3 separate regions of the Homo sapiens genome follow, and all the other regions are reported to be linked to region 1. The links are microRNA targets in miRTarBase. Many come from high-throughput screens and were not tested one by one. Region 1 holds a microRNA gene; each other region holds the end of a gene's coding sequence.

Evidence for each region. Region 1 holds the annotated microRNA hsa-miR-519d-3p (CAAAGUGCCUCCCUUUAGAGUG, at 1,601-1,622, shown strand). A microRNA usually pairs through its seed, bases 2 to 8, with sites in the 3' UTR of a target mRNA and lowers its output. Matches are read on the target gene's strand: a 7mer-m8 pairs with bases 2 to 8, a 7mer-A1 pairs with bases 2 to 7 and ends in A, and an 8mer does both.
Region 2: the mRNA of VPS13C is a reported target of hsa-miR-519d-3p. Seed matches in the 3' UTR shown: 8mer at 1,696-1,703.
Region 3: miRTarBase lists NIBAN1 as a target of hsa-miR-519d-3p. Seed matches in the 3' UTR shown: 7mer-m8 at 4,105-4,111, 8mer at 4,076-4,083, 7mer-A1 at 2,250-2,256, 7mer-m8 at 1,670-1,676 and 7mer-A1 at 678-684.

Annotation. Positions count from the first base shown.
Region 1 is chr19:53,711,800-53,716,875 of GRCh38, forward strand. It overlaps MIR519D (microRNA 519d), which reads left to right and starts at 1,548; the gene lies at 1,548-1,635. MIR517A (microRNA 517a) reads left to right here and starts at 469; the gene lies at 469-555. It overlaps MIR521-2 (microRNA 521-2), which reads left to right and starts at 4,795; the gene lies at 4,795-4,881.
Region 2 is chr15:61,850,008-61,855,074 of GRCh38, reverse strand. It overlaps VPS13C (vacuolar protein sorting 13 homolog C), which reads left to right. Exons shown (of 85, transcript NM_020821.3): 84 at 121-204; 85 at 517-2,686. The coding sequence ends at 618. All of the region lies in intron 2 of LOC124903501 (a long non-coding RNA gene), which reads right to left. Among named protein-coding and RNA genes, the nearest start is that of LINC02349, 120 kb to the right of the region's middle.
Region 3 is chr1:184,790,532-184,795,598 of GRCh38, forward strand. It overlaps NIBAN1 (niban apoptosis regulator 1), which reads right to left. Exons shown (of 14, transcript NM_052966.4): 14 at 501-5,067. The coding sequence ends at 4,446. Among named protein-coding and RNA genes, the nearest start is that of EDEM3, 38 kb to the left of the region's middle.

The sequences.
Region 1 (5,076 bases):
GCCAGGCTGGTTGCGAACTCCTGACCTCAGGTGATCTGCCCACCTCAGCCTCCCAAAGTGCTAAGATTACAGGCGTGAGCCACCACACATGGCCATTAACACCTTTTAGTCCATGGAAATTATTCTGGCACTGATTTATAAAGCCTCATGTGGGGTCAGGTAGAGTCAAAGGGGGACCTCAGTGTCCCTTGCAGATGGGATGTGCTCAGCAAGAGCACGGAGGTGGAGTGCATGGGGTTTGAGTTTTCACTGGGGAAATGAAACCAACATCTTGGGTGCATGACCAGGTCATATATGCAGTCATATATGCAATATGCATGGTGGTGGGTGCCTCTAATCCCAGCTACTCAGGAGGCTGACGCAGAAGAATCGCTTGAACCCAGGAGGCAGAAGTTGCCATGAGCCGAGATCCCACCACCGCATCCAGCCTGGGCGGCAGAGTGAGACTCCGTGTCAAAAAAAAGAAGATCTCAGGCAGTGACCCTCTAGATGGAAGCACTGTCTGTTGTATAAAAGAAAAGATCGTGCATCCCTTTAGAGTGTTACTGTTTGAGACAAGCAACGTTGAAGATGCTGCTGATCTTGGTAATACATTTGCAGAGCGTGCTTATCATCAGACTTGCATGATGTCGGGGTTCTGTTTGTGATTTGAAATTTTTCCAAGACAGGCTTTCTATTGCCCAGGCGTGGGTGGATAGCACCTTCCACCAAGATTTCTTGGGCTTAAGTGGTCCTCTTTTTATTTTTTGATTTTTTGAGACACACTCTTGTTTCGTTGGGAGTGCAGTAGCAGGATCTCTGCTCACCGGAAACTCCACCTCTCGGGTTCCAGTGATTCTCCCACCTCAGCCTGCCGAATTGTTGGGAATTCAGGCATCAGGCACCCACCATCGTGTCCTGCACTCTTGCTGCCCATCCTGGAGAGCACTGGCATGATCTAGGCTCACTGCAACCTCCGCCTCCTGGGTTCGAGTGATGCTTCTGCCTCAGCCTCCCAGGTAGTTGGGATTACAGGCACCTACTGCCCCACCCAGCTAATTTTTATGTTTTTAGTAGAGACGGGTTTCACCATGTTGGCCAGGCTAGTCTTGAACTCCCGCTTTCAGGTGATCCACTAGCCTGTGGTCTATCCTGGAGGATGTTTGTGTGTGTGACAATGTATATTCTTCAACATCTTAGACTCCATTTTGGATGCTCCCATCGGAACTATGTATCCCTGTGCTGGAACTCAAGTGAACACTCAGCTCAAAGTCCATTGCTGTTCTCTAGAAATCCAGCCCAGTTCTCTTGGTTAAATATAAGGTATGTGTAGTAGGCATTGCTTTTTCTCTTTAGAGGCAAAACTCAGGAGGGTTGCCCCTTGATGAACAAGGCTAACCTGCAGAGCCTTTGAAGAAAGGAACTGGAGATGGTCCTTTTAGGGGTTTATGTTCTGGATTCTAGAAAACAGGCAAACAGGGCCAATAAATGCATCTTTATTGTTGTGGCCATTTTAACCTGGTCAAGGAAGATTTCAACAAAAAACCCAGAGTGCTGGAGCAAGAAGATCCCATGCTGTGACCCTCCAAAGGGAAGCGCTTTCTGTTTGTTTTCTCTTAAACAAAGTGCCTCCCTTTAGAGTGTTACCGTTTGGGAAAAGCCACGTTGAAGATGATGCTGATCTTGGTAATACATTTGCAGACCATGCTTGTAATCAGACTTGGATGATGTTGGGAGTCTGTTTTTTTGTTTGTTTGTTTGGTTGGTTTTTTTGTTTGTTAGGTTTTTGTTTTTTGTTTTGGTGTGTGTGTTTTGTTTTGTGTTTTTTTTTTTTTCTAAGACAAGGTCTCTGTTGCCCAGGAGAGACTAGAGAAGCACTTTTTAAGATAGGCCTGTTGGGCTCAGATGGTCCTTTTATGGGATACAGTCTTGCTCTGTGACCCAGACTGGAGTGCAGTGGCGCGATCTTGGCTCAATGCAACCTCCACCTCCCGGGTTCGAGTGATTCTCCTGCCTCAGCTTCCTGGGTAGCTGGGATTACAGATGCCTGACATCACACTCGGCTAATATTTGTATTTTTCTTTTTTATTCATTCATTCATTTTTGAGATGGAGTGTTGCTGTCACCCAGCCTGGAGGGCAGTGGCATGATCCCGGCTGACTCCAACCTCTGCCTCTCAGGTTCAAGCCATTCTCCTGCCTCAGTCTCCTGAGTAGGTGGAATTACAGGCACCCACCACTACAACCAGCTACTTTTTGATTTTGATTTTTTTTTTTTTTTTTTTTTTTTAGTAAAGGTGGGGTTTCACCATGTTGGCCAGGCTAGTCTCAAACCCCTGACCTCAAGTGAGCCGCTGGCCTCGGCCTCCCAAAGTGCTGAGAATACAGGCGTGAGCCACCGGGCACAGCCATCAGCACCTTTTACTTTATGGAAATTTTTCTGGCACTGGTATAGAACCTCACGTGGGGTCAGGTGGAGTTGAGGGGACCTCAGTGTCCCTGCAGATGGGATGAGCAAGAGCACGGAGGTGGAGTGCATGGGGCTTCAGTGTTTATTGGGGAAATGAAGCTGAAATCTGGGTGCATGACCAGGAGATAAATGCATGAGACGGCGGTCTCACTATGCTGCCCTGGCTGAAGTGGGCTTAGATCCTCCTGCCTCTGCCCCTCCCCAGTCCTTGGTAGATGGGACCACATGTGAATATTAACCCCCCATGCACAGACAAGAAGAAAGTAAGGACTGTTCTTTGGTTCATACCTGACCCCAGTTAAACTTGTATTTTAGATAAACAATGTATTTGAGATGTACTTGAACAACAAACGATTTGCTGTTCAGGTGTGGGCATCTTTGTTTTGTTTTTTTTTTTCCTAATTTTAAATATGGGACTAGTGTGCATATGGTGGCTCTTGTCTGTAATTCCTGCACTTTGTGAGGCTGAGACAGGAGGATCACCTGAGATCAGTTGTTCGAGACCAGCCTGGCCAACATGAAGCCAGGAGGCTGAGCTTTCAGTGAGCTGAAATCTTCTGCTGCACTCCACCCTGGGCAACAGAGTGAGACTCAGTCTCAAGAAAGTAAAAAATAGGCCGGGCGCGGTGGCGCATGCCTGTAATCCCAGCACTTTGGGAGGCCGAGACGGGAGGATCACCTGAGGTCAGGAGTTCAAGACCAACAGGGCCAACATGGCAAAGCCTCGTCTCTACTAAAAATACAAAAATTAGCTGGGTGCAATGGTGCACATCTGTAATTCCAGCTACTCCGGAGGCTGAGGCAGGAGAATCCCTTGAACCCAGGAGGAGGAGATTTCAGTGAGCTGAAATCAAGCCATGGCATTCCAGCCTGGGCCAGAGAGCAACATTCCGTCTCAAAAATAAATGAATAAATAAAATAAATAAAAATAAATAGATAAATATGGGACATCATAAATTTGGGTGTCACCTTTGTGTAGCAGCCAGCGTAATCTCTGTCATTCCAATTTTTTTTTATGTGAACTGCCAAAGCAAGCACTTGTGTAGGAATTTTTCTTCCTGTGAGCATACAATATATGGAACTTTCTTTGACACAGGGTCTCAGAAATATATGGTATATATTTCGTTATATATATACTTATATATAATATAATCATATACACACAAAATACTGTTCTAAATACAGAGAATACTCTGATATAACCTTGGGTATTTTTTTCTTTCTTTGTGTGTGTATGTTTTTTATTTGTTTGGCTGGTTTTTTTTTGTTTTTGTTTTTTGTTTTTTGTTTTTTGTTTTTGTTTTTGTTTTGAGACAGAGTCTCACTCTGTCGCCGAGGCTGGAGTGCAGTGACAGGATCTCGGGTCACTGCAAGCTCCGCCTACCGGGTTCACGCCATTCTCCTGCCTCAGCCTCCTGAGTAGCTGGGACCACAGGCACCCACCACCACACCTGGCTAATTTTTTTTTGTATTTTTAGTAGAGACAGGGTTTCGCCATGTTAGCCAGGATGATCTCGATCTCCTGACCTCGTGATCCACCCGCCTCGGCCTCCCAAAGTGCTGGGATTACAGGCGTCAGCCACCGCGCCCGGCCAGTTGGTTATTTTTGAGACAAGGTCTGGCTCTATCACCCAGGCTGGAGTGTAGTGGTGCGATCTTGGCTCACTGCAACCTCCACCTCCCACCTAAACCTGCTGAATTAGTGTCTACAGGCATGCACCACCACACCTGGCTCACTTTTGTGTTTTTCATACACATGGGTTTACACCATGTTGCTGGGGCTGGTCTCAGGAACTCCTGAGCTCAGGTGATCCTCCCGTCTTGGCCCCCTAATGTGCTAGGATTAGAGGTGTGAGCCAACCCACCCCACCCATACTTACGTATTTCTGTTCAGATTTTATTGAGTTTTTATGACCAAGCCTATGGTCTATCCTGGAGAATATTTGTGTATGTGACAATGTATATTCTTCAACATCGTAGACTCGATTTTGGGTGCTCCCATCGGGACTGTGTGTACCTGTCCTGGAACTCAAGTGCACCCTTGGCTCATAATCCATTGCTCTTCTCCAGAAATCTTACCAATTCTCCTGCTTAAATATAAGCTACGTGTAGTAGGCATTGTTTTTTCTTAGCAGATACGAAACTCAGGAAGATTGTCCTATGATAAACAAGGCTAACCTGCTGATTGTTTGAAGCAAGGAACTGGAGATGGTCCTTTTAGGGGTTTATGTTTTGGATTCCAGAAAACGTGTAAACAGGGCCAATACGTGCATCTTTATTTTGTGTCCAGTTTAGCCTGGTCAACAAAAATGTCAACAAAAAACCCAGAGTGCTGGAGTAAGAAGGTCTCGGGCTGTGACTCTCCAAAGGGAAGAATTTTCTCTTGTCTAAAAGAAAAGAACGCACTTCCCTTTAGAGTGTTACCGTGTGAGAAAAGCAATGCTGAAGTTGATGCTGATCTTGCAAATAACTTTGCAGAGCCTGCTTATAATCAGACTTTGACAATGGTGGGCGTCTGTTTTTTTTTTTCTAAGACAGGATCTCTGTTGCCCAGGCTGGAGTATGGTGGCACTTCCAACCTAGGTCTCTTGGGCTCAAATGGTCCTCTTTTTTGGGACAGAGTCTTGC
Region 2 (5,067 bases), not on the chromosome of region 1:
TGTATTTGGTTAGCCTACTTGTTATAAGATAGAGTTGACATTTAAGTATACAATTAAAAGTTAGGAATTTTTTTCTTCCTCAGAATAATTTCTTTTCTGTCATTGTTTCTTTTGAAACAGGAACAGGGTCTGTTCCACAAAAAAGACAGTGCCAATCAAGGCTGTGTTCGAAAAGTTTACCTGAAGGACACCGCCACAGCAGAGGTAAACAATTTAAAGAGCATGCCTCAATTTTTTTTAGCTGAAATACTTTTTTAAAAGCCTCTTATAATGAATACCATTATTTCTCCCAAAGCTCTCCCAAATATAACTATGGATGGATATATAAACTTAATATGCTGTGGACTCAGTCGGGTGCAAGGGTCTTATTTTTATATGACACATCTGGACTGTATCCTTGGTCCTTAGCTGTTGGTCCTGTTTGGAGAGCTTCAGCCCTTGCTTTCATACCTTTCCCTTCAACCAAATGAGCCTATACTTGTCTTTAAAATTCATAATAAGTATTTTACTTTACAGAGAGCATGTAATGCCATTGAGGATGCACAGTCAACGAGACAGCAGCAAAAATTGATGAAGCAGTCATCAGTGAGACTTCTCAGACCCCAATTGCCATCTTAATCACAGACCTCAGGGGCTCCAACAGGGAGAAAAAACAATCACTGGTCTTGTCTATAAGTCACTCTGCTTTATCTTGCTAAAGACAATTTTTCAAGCAATCCTTTAGTTTTAGTTTTCTGGAATAGCTAGTATTGGGTTTTCTAGTTTTTTCACCTTTTAGTTTTTACTCTAATTTTGTAACCATGTATATGCTAGCAGTCCACTTCTACGCCACCACCCAAATGGGTCAGACCCTTGAAGAAACGTCACTTCAAACTCAGAATGAAATTTTCATTAATATTAAAATTGTGAAGCAAAGGTCAATAGGCTTATATTTAATTAAAGCCTTACTGAAGAATAAGAAATGAGCTTAGAATGACTAGTGTTCTTTGAAAGGTTTTTTTATTTTTGTTTTTTTGGGGTTTTTTTTTTTTTTGAGACCGAGTCTTGCTCTGTCGCCCAGGCTGGAATGCAGTGGTGCGATCTTGGCTCACTGCAATCTCTGCCTCTCGGGTTCAAGCTGTTCTACTGCCTCAGCCTCCTGAGTAGCTGGGATTACAGGTGTGTGCCACCACGCCTGGGTAATTTTTTTTTTTTTTGTATTTTTAGTAGAGATGAGTTTCACCATGTTGGTCAGTCTAGTCTCGAACTCCTGACCTTGTGATCCGCATGCCTCAGCCTCCCAAAGTGCTGGGATTACAGGCATGAGCCACCACGGCCCGCCAAAAGGCTTTAACCCATGAACAAATGTTGGATCCTGACATTTTGTTTAAGAGTGATTTGTTCAATAATTGAACTGAGTTAACATTCTTGGTAAACCAGGTAATTGAATGAAGAAAGGTCACTAAAGGGAGAAATGACATGTTTTCTATTTTCTTTTCATGAAAACACTGTTTTTCCCCCTAATAAAGCATATTTTACTTTGGTGCTTATTTTTCCTCCTTGCAGTCTAATAAAAAAATCTGGACAATCAAACCTTAAAATAGCTACACTCTGCCCTCTGTAATGTAGCATTCATAAAAATTTGGAAGTATTTACATCCTCTTTCAAGATGAGCTTATATGACACAATTATTATTTGCTGATACATGAAAATACTGCACTTTAAGTTTCTCAAGACTCTGAAATATGTAAAATTCAATATTTTTATATTCCCAGAAATTGTTTCTTACAGGTTGAAAGTCTTTTAAGGGCATCACAAATTAACATTTACTCCTAATGCACGCCTAGAATGTATTTTAAATACTTACTAAGAAGAATGAAAATTCTTTGGTTGTTTTATATATAAATAAGGCATATATAATGACACTGTGTTCTGTGAGGGAGCAGGCCCTGTGAGAATCAATTCAGGACAGTATTTTTTTTTGTCCTTTCTCCATCCTTGATCAGAGATAAACTATTAAAACTTTAAAAAATACTCAAAAATATGTAAGTTTTTTGGTTGAACCTTTAGATTTGCTCATAATGTTTAACATAACAACATTTATTTCAAATCACTGAATTCATGGAGATGTGGACACGCTTGGTTTGCTCTATTTTTGTTTATGTGTGATAGTGGTTCTGTCATCATCATTCATGTTTTTTAAGGCCTGGTCATAAAACTTTAAATTTTACTAGTGTTACTTAATGTATATTCTAAAAAGAGAATGCAGTAACTAATGCCCTAAATGTTTGATCTCTGTTTGTCATTACTTTTTCAAAATTATTTTTTTCTGTAAAGTATAATATATAAAACTTCTTGCTTAAATTGAATTTCTATATTAGTGGTTAATTGCAGTTTATTAAAGGGATCATTATCAGTAATTTCATAGCAACTGTTCTAGTGTTTTGTGTTTTTAAAACAGAATTAGGAATTTGAGATATCTGATTATATTTTTCATATGAATCACAGCTGTTGACAATGTCCCATATATTTAAGAAATTATATCATACTGATACTATTTGTAACATTTTGATTTGATTTAATCTCCAGGGACAGAAATAATTCATTGGTAAAGTGTAATAATGCGTTTTTTAAAAATGCTTTGAGAGGTAATTACTTGCATATGAGAGAAATAAAACATTTGGCACATTGTTTACAGGTGTGAAAACTTTGTGGGTTTGTGTTATTCAAGTAACATTTGCTTTACTTTTTGTCTTTCCCTTTTCCTCTTCCAATCCCAAAATAGTGAGAAGTTATATTGATAGTTATGGAGGACTTTACAAGATACTAGTCAGAAAAGCTTTTTCTCAGGGGTACTGAGCCCCTTTATCACACTAGAGATCTGTGGCAGAGACCTCCAATACTGGGGGATTACAGAGAATGCGGTTGACCTAGGGGCCCAGCTGCACTTTGAAATCCATTGCTGTATTTGCATTGAGCCCATGCCTTCCGTGGTTTCTCTCAGCGACTGGCTGAGTATGAAGTTATACTAAGACATACTTAGTCTGGAAATTCTAGGAGACACAGAACTCCTCTGACAGCCGACTTTGGCTTGAAGACTCTTCAGTGGCCTTGCAGAACCTTTCTTAGACTGCATGGCAGTCTGGGATGTTCTACCATACCGCTGTCTTTCTCTTCTCCTCCCTCTTCCACATGGGGCTCAGACTACCAGTTTGGAAGGCTCACCCAGTGCTGGATTATCTGGTAGGAAGAATAAGTTCATGCTGAGGGCTGTAGCAAAGCAGGGGCATTAAAAAAGGAAAAAAAAAAAAAAGGAAGAAGACTGTACCCAAGCTTCGTAAGAAAAATGCCATCCAGGGTGGACTTACTTCCATGTGTTTTATGATTTAGTATTGTTTTTATTTTGAATTATGCATGAAGGAGGACACTATCATCTTTTTGGTGCTTTGAGTTTCTAAGTATGTTGATCTGGTGCTGCCTGGATATCTGTTTTTAACGAAGTTCTGTGTGTGTTTCTAATGTACAGCCAGGACTAAAAATTAATGCTCTGGACTTAAAATGATCAAATTCTTAAAGGGCTCTACAGATCTCAATGTTAGTTAATATTAAGTTGCAATTATTGCCAGAGCTGGAAGAATCATCTTTTTATTGGGGAGAAAAACCAAAGATTCTTAGAGGATAGAAGATTGCTCATAACAGGGTCATTTGTCCTCTGGGGACAAGCCCTTGTGGTTGAGAATCACTGCCAGAATGACCATGAGTACTGATGAAAGTGGGTTCTGTGCCATGTGTGTCAGCTCTAAGAAGAAATCGAGACTCACTGGAGCGGAGGGAGCACATTTCTCTTGGTAACTGTGCCGCTAGTGGGAAAATTGAGGCTTATTCTTGAATTCATGCTGGAAAGTATCTTCAGTTATAAGTGTGTATCATTCAAACAGTCAACTGTGGGTCTCTTTGAGGTGAAAAAGTCTTCAGAAAGAGTTTTCTGTTTTGTTTTTACAAACCGCAGACACATAGTTCCTTATTCAAAATTCAAAAATTCAGAAGGCTCTGAAAACCAAAAGATTTTGCAAAACTTTGAAACAAAGACATTTGGCAGCAAAATCTGAACTGAATTGACATGAGGCTATTCATGGTCTTTTATTCTATTTGGTGTAGATAATTTGGCTGTAGCAAAAGTACTTTATTTGGTTGTGGGGTGCTGCTGCAGATTTCCCTGGAGGCATACAAGCTCTATGTGGTATATGAACCATATTGTCTTTCTTTTTTCTTTTCTTTTTTTTTTTTTTAGAGACGATGTCTCACTCTGTCATCCAGGCTGGAGTGGTGCGATCTCAGCTCGCTGCAACTTTTGCCTCCCAGGTTCAAGCGATTCTTCTGCCTCAGCCTCCCGAGTAGCTGGGACTATAGGCGTGCACCACCACGCCTGGCTAATTTTTATATTTTTAGTAGAGACAGGGTTTCACCGCATCGGCCAGGCTGGTCTTGAACTCCTGACCTGGTGATCTGCCCACCTTGGCCTCCCAAAATGCTGGGACTACAGGCATGAGCCACTGCACCCAGCCCATATTGCCTTTCTTAAATGTGAAGTCCTCTATTCTGAAACATCTAGCCTCAGGGTTTTAGGTAAGAGATTGTAGAGCTGTATACCTACAAAATTCTCAATGTATTAAATTTGCTTCTCAAATTTTAGAAAAATCATAGACTATAGGAGAAACTCTAAGAAACAACAGAATTTTCTTCCCTCTCAGACCATACTAATGTTTCATTTTACAGTTAGTGCTGGCAAATTTTTTTTGATAAAGAGTTCAGAGAAATTGGTGTCAACATATATGTTGCCACATGATGTGTATCAGAAGGATGACACTTGAGAACAAATATGGAAACATAAGCACATCAAAATTATTTTTATCCCTTTTGTACATTACATATCTGCTGGATGAAAAGATTTTAAAAATTGACTTCTAGTGGGGAAAAAATTAGAATAGTAATGAAATATATATACCAACATGGTCCTCTATCCACTAAGATTATAACAACACTACAAAGAAGATTTAATTCTTTAGCATTATTTTAAACTTGAAGAAA
Region 3 (5,067 bases), not on the chromosome of region 1:
CTGATGTCAGGGATCATGTCTACTGTGTTCACTTGTTTCTCCACCACCCACTGGAGTGCCTGCTTATAGGAGGTGACCAGTCATTATTTTTTTGATGAATGAATCCACGGATAAATGAGCAACTGTGGACATGGCAAATAAATACTGTTGTATATATAATTACAGAAAGAATGAATGTTTTGCTCAATGTTACCCATTGAAAATAAATTTAAGTTTGAACAGCAGTTCAATTACATCAAGAATAATTGCCCACTGCTGTATTATGAATGTGATCCAATTCCTGGAGACGTAAGCATATGCATTATCAAAGCATAATTACACCTGACATTAAGTGGTTTCCCTGCAGATTCCTTCGTGACAACAGAAAAGTAAAAGGTCCATGATACAGCAAGAATGACTCGCCTTTTCGTTTCAGAGGGCTGTACCTCACAATTCAAATGTGACATCTGCTTAAAAGATGAAACCAGCCTCCTTCCAAATAAATGACATCTGGTCAGCTCTTCAAGGATGAACATTTTATTGGAATATAGGCACCTGGCAGAGTAAATACATGGTTACAAAGTGTTTTAAGTTTATTTGCTTTATATAGTGACCGGGAAAGTCAATCCACAGTGTCGATTTTTTTTCTTGAAGTTGCAGACTTTAGAAGGCAAACCCTCAAACCCGTCTCTTTATGGTAAAGTGTGAAGGCACATGTTGCCAACTGTTGCACCGACTGATACTATTATTAAGTCAATGATGTCCTTCCCTTCTTCACATCAAAATTGCTATGAATCACATATCACTTAACCTTATTATAATGAACGAAAATCACTTTTGTCTTGGGGAATTGTGAAACCTTTTGAAATCACTAGCTCTGACATAGAAGATTACCAGACTTGAGAATTTTTATAATAAAATATGTAAGGCCAGAAAGCTTTTGGACAAGTTGGAATCTTACCCTGGTAGTCTCCAAAATCTTTTTTTTTTTTTTTTAAAGAAAGTTTACTATGTGTAATGCAAGGCACTTATGTCTCTGCTTAAAGCTACAAGGGAAAAAATGACAAGCCCAGTTTTTTTCAAGGGAAATATTTTTTCTCTGTGAAAGGTCAGTAGTAAAAGAGCTAGTTTAAAGTCATGGAGTTTTTGCCAAAAACCATGTCTCGAGGTTTTATGCATTTCTAATGGCTTTGCCCATAGGAGAGATACCCAGAGTGGCAAACAGAGGCTAAGGAAAAAAATGCTGTTCATTTAGATCAGAATAACCTCGCTCCAATCTGGAAACCACTCAAATGACACATACAAGTCTGTATGAAAAGCAAAACAAACTCATGGTGATATGCAGTTATTCCATTCAACATGTTAAAATGAAGACAGAGTATTTTAAATGCACTCTAGTTTCCTGTTCCATCTTCAAATTAAACAATCATCCTGCTTATTCTAGAAAACTTTTTTTTTTTTTTTGAGACAGGGTCTCATTTTGTTGCCCAAGCTGGAGTGCAGTGGTAAAATCATAGTTCACTGCAGCCTCAACTTCCCTCGCTCAAACAATCCTCCTGCCTCAACCACCCAAGTAGCTAGGACTGCAGGCACACACCATTATTATTTTTTGTAAGGATGAGATCTTGCTATGTTTCCCAGGCTTGTCTAGAACTCCTGGGCTCAAGTGACCCTCTCACCTCAGCCTCCCAAAGTGCTGGGATTATAGGTGTAAGCTACCACATCCAGCCCAAAAACTTGTCTTTAGTGAAATATGTACAGAAAATTCTTTGATTATATTCTGGAGTACATCCTGCCAAATAGTGCCCAGTCCTCCCTGACCTACATGATGGATAAAGTTAGGGCACTGATGTTCATCCATCCAATGCAGTGAAAGGTACTCTCTTTTAGGGTTGAAAAAAATCTCTTAGCTTTCCAGGGGGTGCAAGAAGCCCTGCATTGAGCAAAGAAAGGAAGCTAGGAAGCTCCGGTGTGAGGTCAGCCTGGGCTGGGACTCCACACTACTGTCCCAGGGAGTCGGGCAGCCTTTGTGGGGCTGGGCACTGCCTCTTTGGCTTCCTGCCTTACTGGGCAGTGCATCTGGCCATCTGCCCCTTGGACTTTGGACTTTACTTAAGAGAAAACTCAACAAGGGCAGAAAGCCCAATTCAAAACGTCTTTCTGCCTGACAGCAGGCCCCAAATAGCCCCAGCACAGCAGTGTTCTGGGTGTCCAGTTCCCACATTTCCCGAGCAGCCTGACGCATGCCAGGTCCTATGCACCAGGGATATTAAAGTGACTCAAGGAGGCAGGAAGCCATTATTCAAGGCTGTGGGTTTCTAGCAGGAAGCACAAATGATGACTAAACCCTAGTTTCTGTCTTTTAAGAGAGGAGCCACTTGGAGAGACAAGAAGTAAACCTAATTTCAACACACCATGCTAAATGCCAGGATATGAGTGAGCACTGCAGAAAGCAGAGACTGGGGGAGAAGTGGTCTTTACTTCCTTCACCTGTGGTGGGATCCCTCAAAGACATGAGGATTTAAACACGCCAAGAAAAGTTGCAACAATTAAATATGATATTATACATATACTGAGTATTATTCATGTTTATGACCTAGAAATTCTTCATGGGAGGGCTGAAAAGGGTGATATTTTAATTTCTGGTTAAATGGTTGAACTGTGTGTGAAGCAAATGCTCTAAAGAACTGACATAAATTTACTCGATAGTGATGATCTAAACAAGTTCTCAACAAATATGTTGAGATCTGATGTTAAAATTTGGGGAGGGGCCAGGTAGCTCACGCTGTAATCCCAGCACTTTGGGAAGTCGAGGTGGGTGGATCGCTTGAAATCAGGAGTTTGAGACCAGCCTGGCCAACATGGTGAAAACCCATCTCTACCAAAAATACAAAAATTAGCCGGGAATGGTGCCGCATGGCTGTAATTCCAGCTACTTGGGACGCTGACAGAGGAGAATCTCCTGAACCCAGGAGGCGGAGGTTGCAGTGAGCCGAGATCACACCACTGCACTCCAGCCTTGGCGACAGAGTGAGACTCCATCTCAAAAAAATAGAATAAAATAAAATAAAAAGTCGGGGAGGGAAACCACGATGTAATACTTGGGACTGGAGATTTTAGGAAATGATCTGGTATTTTTCTGAAGGAGAAAAGAACAACTCCTTTTAATCTTTTGGAAGCAAGTCTCTTCCATTTTCAACATTAATGGTTATAGGTCACCATCCGTTAAGAAGATGTGTTTTGTCTATTTCCATTAAAATGTAAGTTCTAGGAGGAAGGAACAAAGTTGTTTTTCGCCATGGTATCCCCAGTGCTTGGTATATAACAGAGACTCAATTAGCTTGCTGAATGACCAAACAAATGATTTCAGCTTTTGATAACATCTTTGGAACTTGAGAGCATACACCTTGGCTTTTGTCTTTATTCATTTATTTATTTATTCATTCATTTTGTGCCCTTCTGGGAATGAACCAGGACTATTTGAATGGAAAGAGAAAAAAAAAAGCTGTCATAGTTTAAAAATTGGCATATGTTCTCTTCCAGATTAAATTCCCTTGGACCTTTTAATTTATGCTAGAACAAGCACTTATCTTTTCTTTTTTTTATTACTAAGCCCAACACAGTGCGTGGCATGCAGTAACTGTTCAAATAATGTTTGTTTAATTGACGGGTTTTAAGCTCGATAACTTAGCTAAGCCCTTTGCACAGTCTAAGCCTAATTTGGAATGCTTTCAGTCTTACCCAGGCCAATAAAATTTTCTTGCCTCATCTGAATTTCCTGCAAATGTGATTAATTAATAAGAATCATCAAGATTAATTAATAAGAAATTGATAGCAGGATGAGTAACAGGCCCAGACAGTCCCACAGATCACACCTTCCACCCTCCATTTCCGCTTAGCTTCTCTTGAATCTATTGGGCATGATTGCCTCTGTGGGGGCTACAGCCAGCACGGGTGACTGTTCATGACCTACCCTCTCTTGCAGTCTGACTGTGGACAAATGCCGAGTCCTTAAGAGATGGTGAAGTAGGCATAGTAGATAGTAAAGGTAGACTTACAGTATACATTTGCATTCTCAAACAAAATTAAAAAGCCTTAAAGTGCACAAGAAGATTGCACAATTGAAAAGTGCAGAGTATACTCAAAACTGTCATCCTACTGTTTTCTCAGTCTTCCCTGCAATACTATTCCCTCCTCAGACATCCTCAGCTCCCTCTCACCCCAAGTATGCCATTGTCTTTGTAATTCTTATTAAAATACTAAAGCAAAAATTCATCGTAGAACAATTCATGTCCACAAAGGTTTGCCTCAGTTGCTCATGCCCTGTATGCATTTCCTCTGGTTTTATTATTCAAATTAAGAAAATACTTAAAAATTTTTTGGTAACAGCTTGCATGCAACCCCTAAGTGTACCCCTATAACCCTTTGGCTTTTTTCAGAGAAAGACTTCAGCCAAATTGTCCCTTTCACTCCTCTGAGGGCAGCTCTGGGAAACTCTCCTGACCACCTTCTCCCTCCTTCACGTCATCTTTGTGTGACAGCAGGACATCCGGGTTTGGAGCATCCTCCACCACCCACTGACACTCATGAATACGGGCTACCTTGATCTCCTCTGCATTCACACTGGCCGTGGCCTGGGCCGCGCTGCTTTGCCCTCCCATCTCTTCTTGTTCCTCAGAAACCTGGCTCTCACTGAGGCAGATGGGGTCAGAACCTAAGGTGCAGCCCTCTTGCTGTGAGGCATCCCCTTCCTCGGTACACTTGCCCCCTCTTCCTTCATGGGCAGTGAGTGTGCAGGCCTCTCCTGGGAGCTCCCCCTCCATGGGCCCCAGGGGCTCCTCGGTGAGCCCTCCACTGGCTGGCGGAGAGGCTGGGCTGCCTACCTCTGGAAATCCCCCCAACTCCTCCCCATGGGCCTCGGGACAGGGAGGTTGGGCCTCCCTCTCGCTGACTTCACTTTCTTCACAGTTGTCGGGGTGGATGGCAGCTGCCTGACTGGGCTCTTTTTCCTCTTCTTCTTCATTTTCTTGGGGAACGTGGCTCTCCCCATTCGTATCTTCTTCCATCACTGGAGCAGAGTCCACTGGT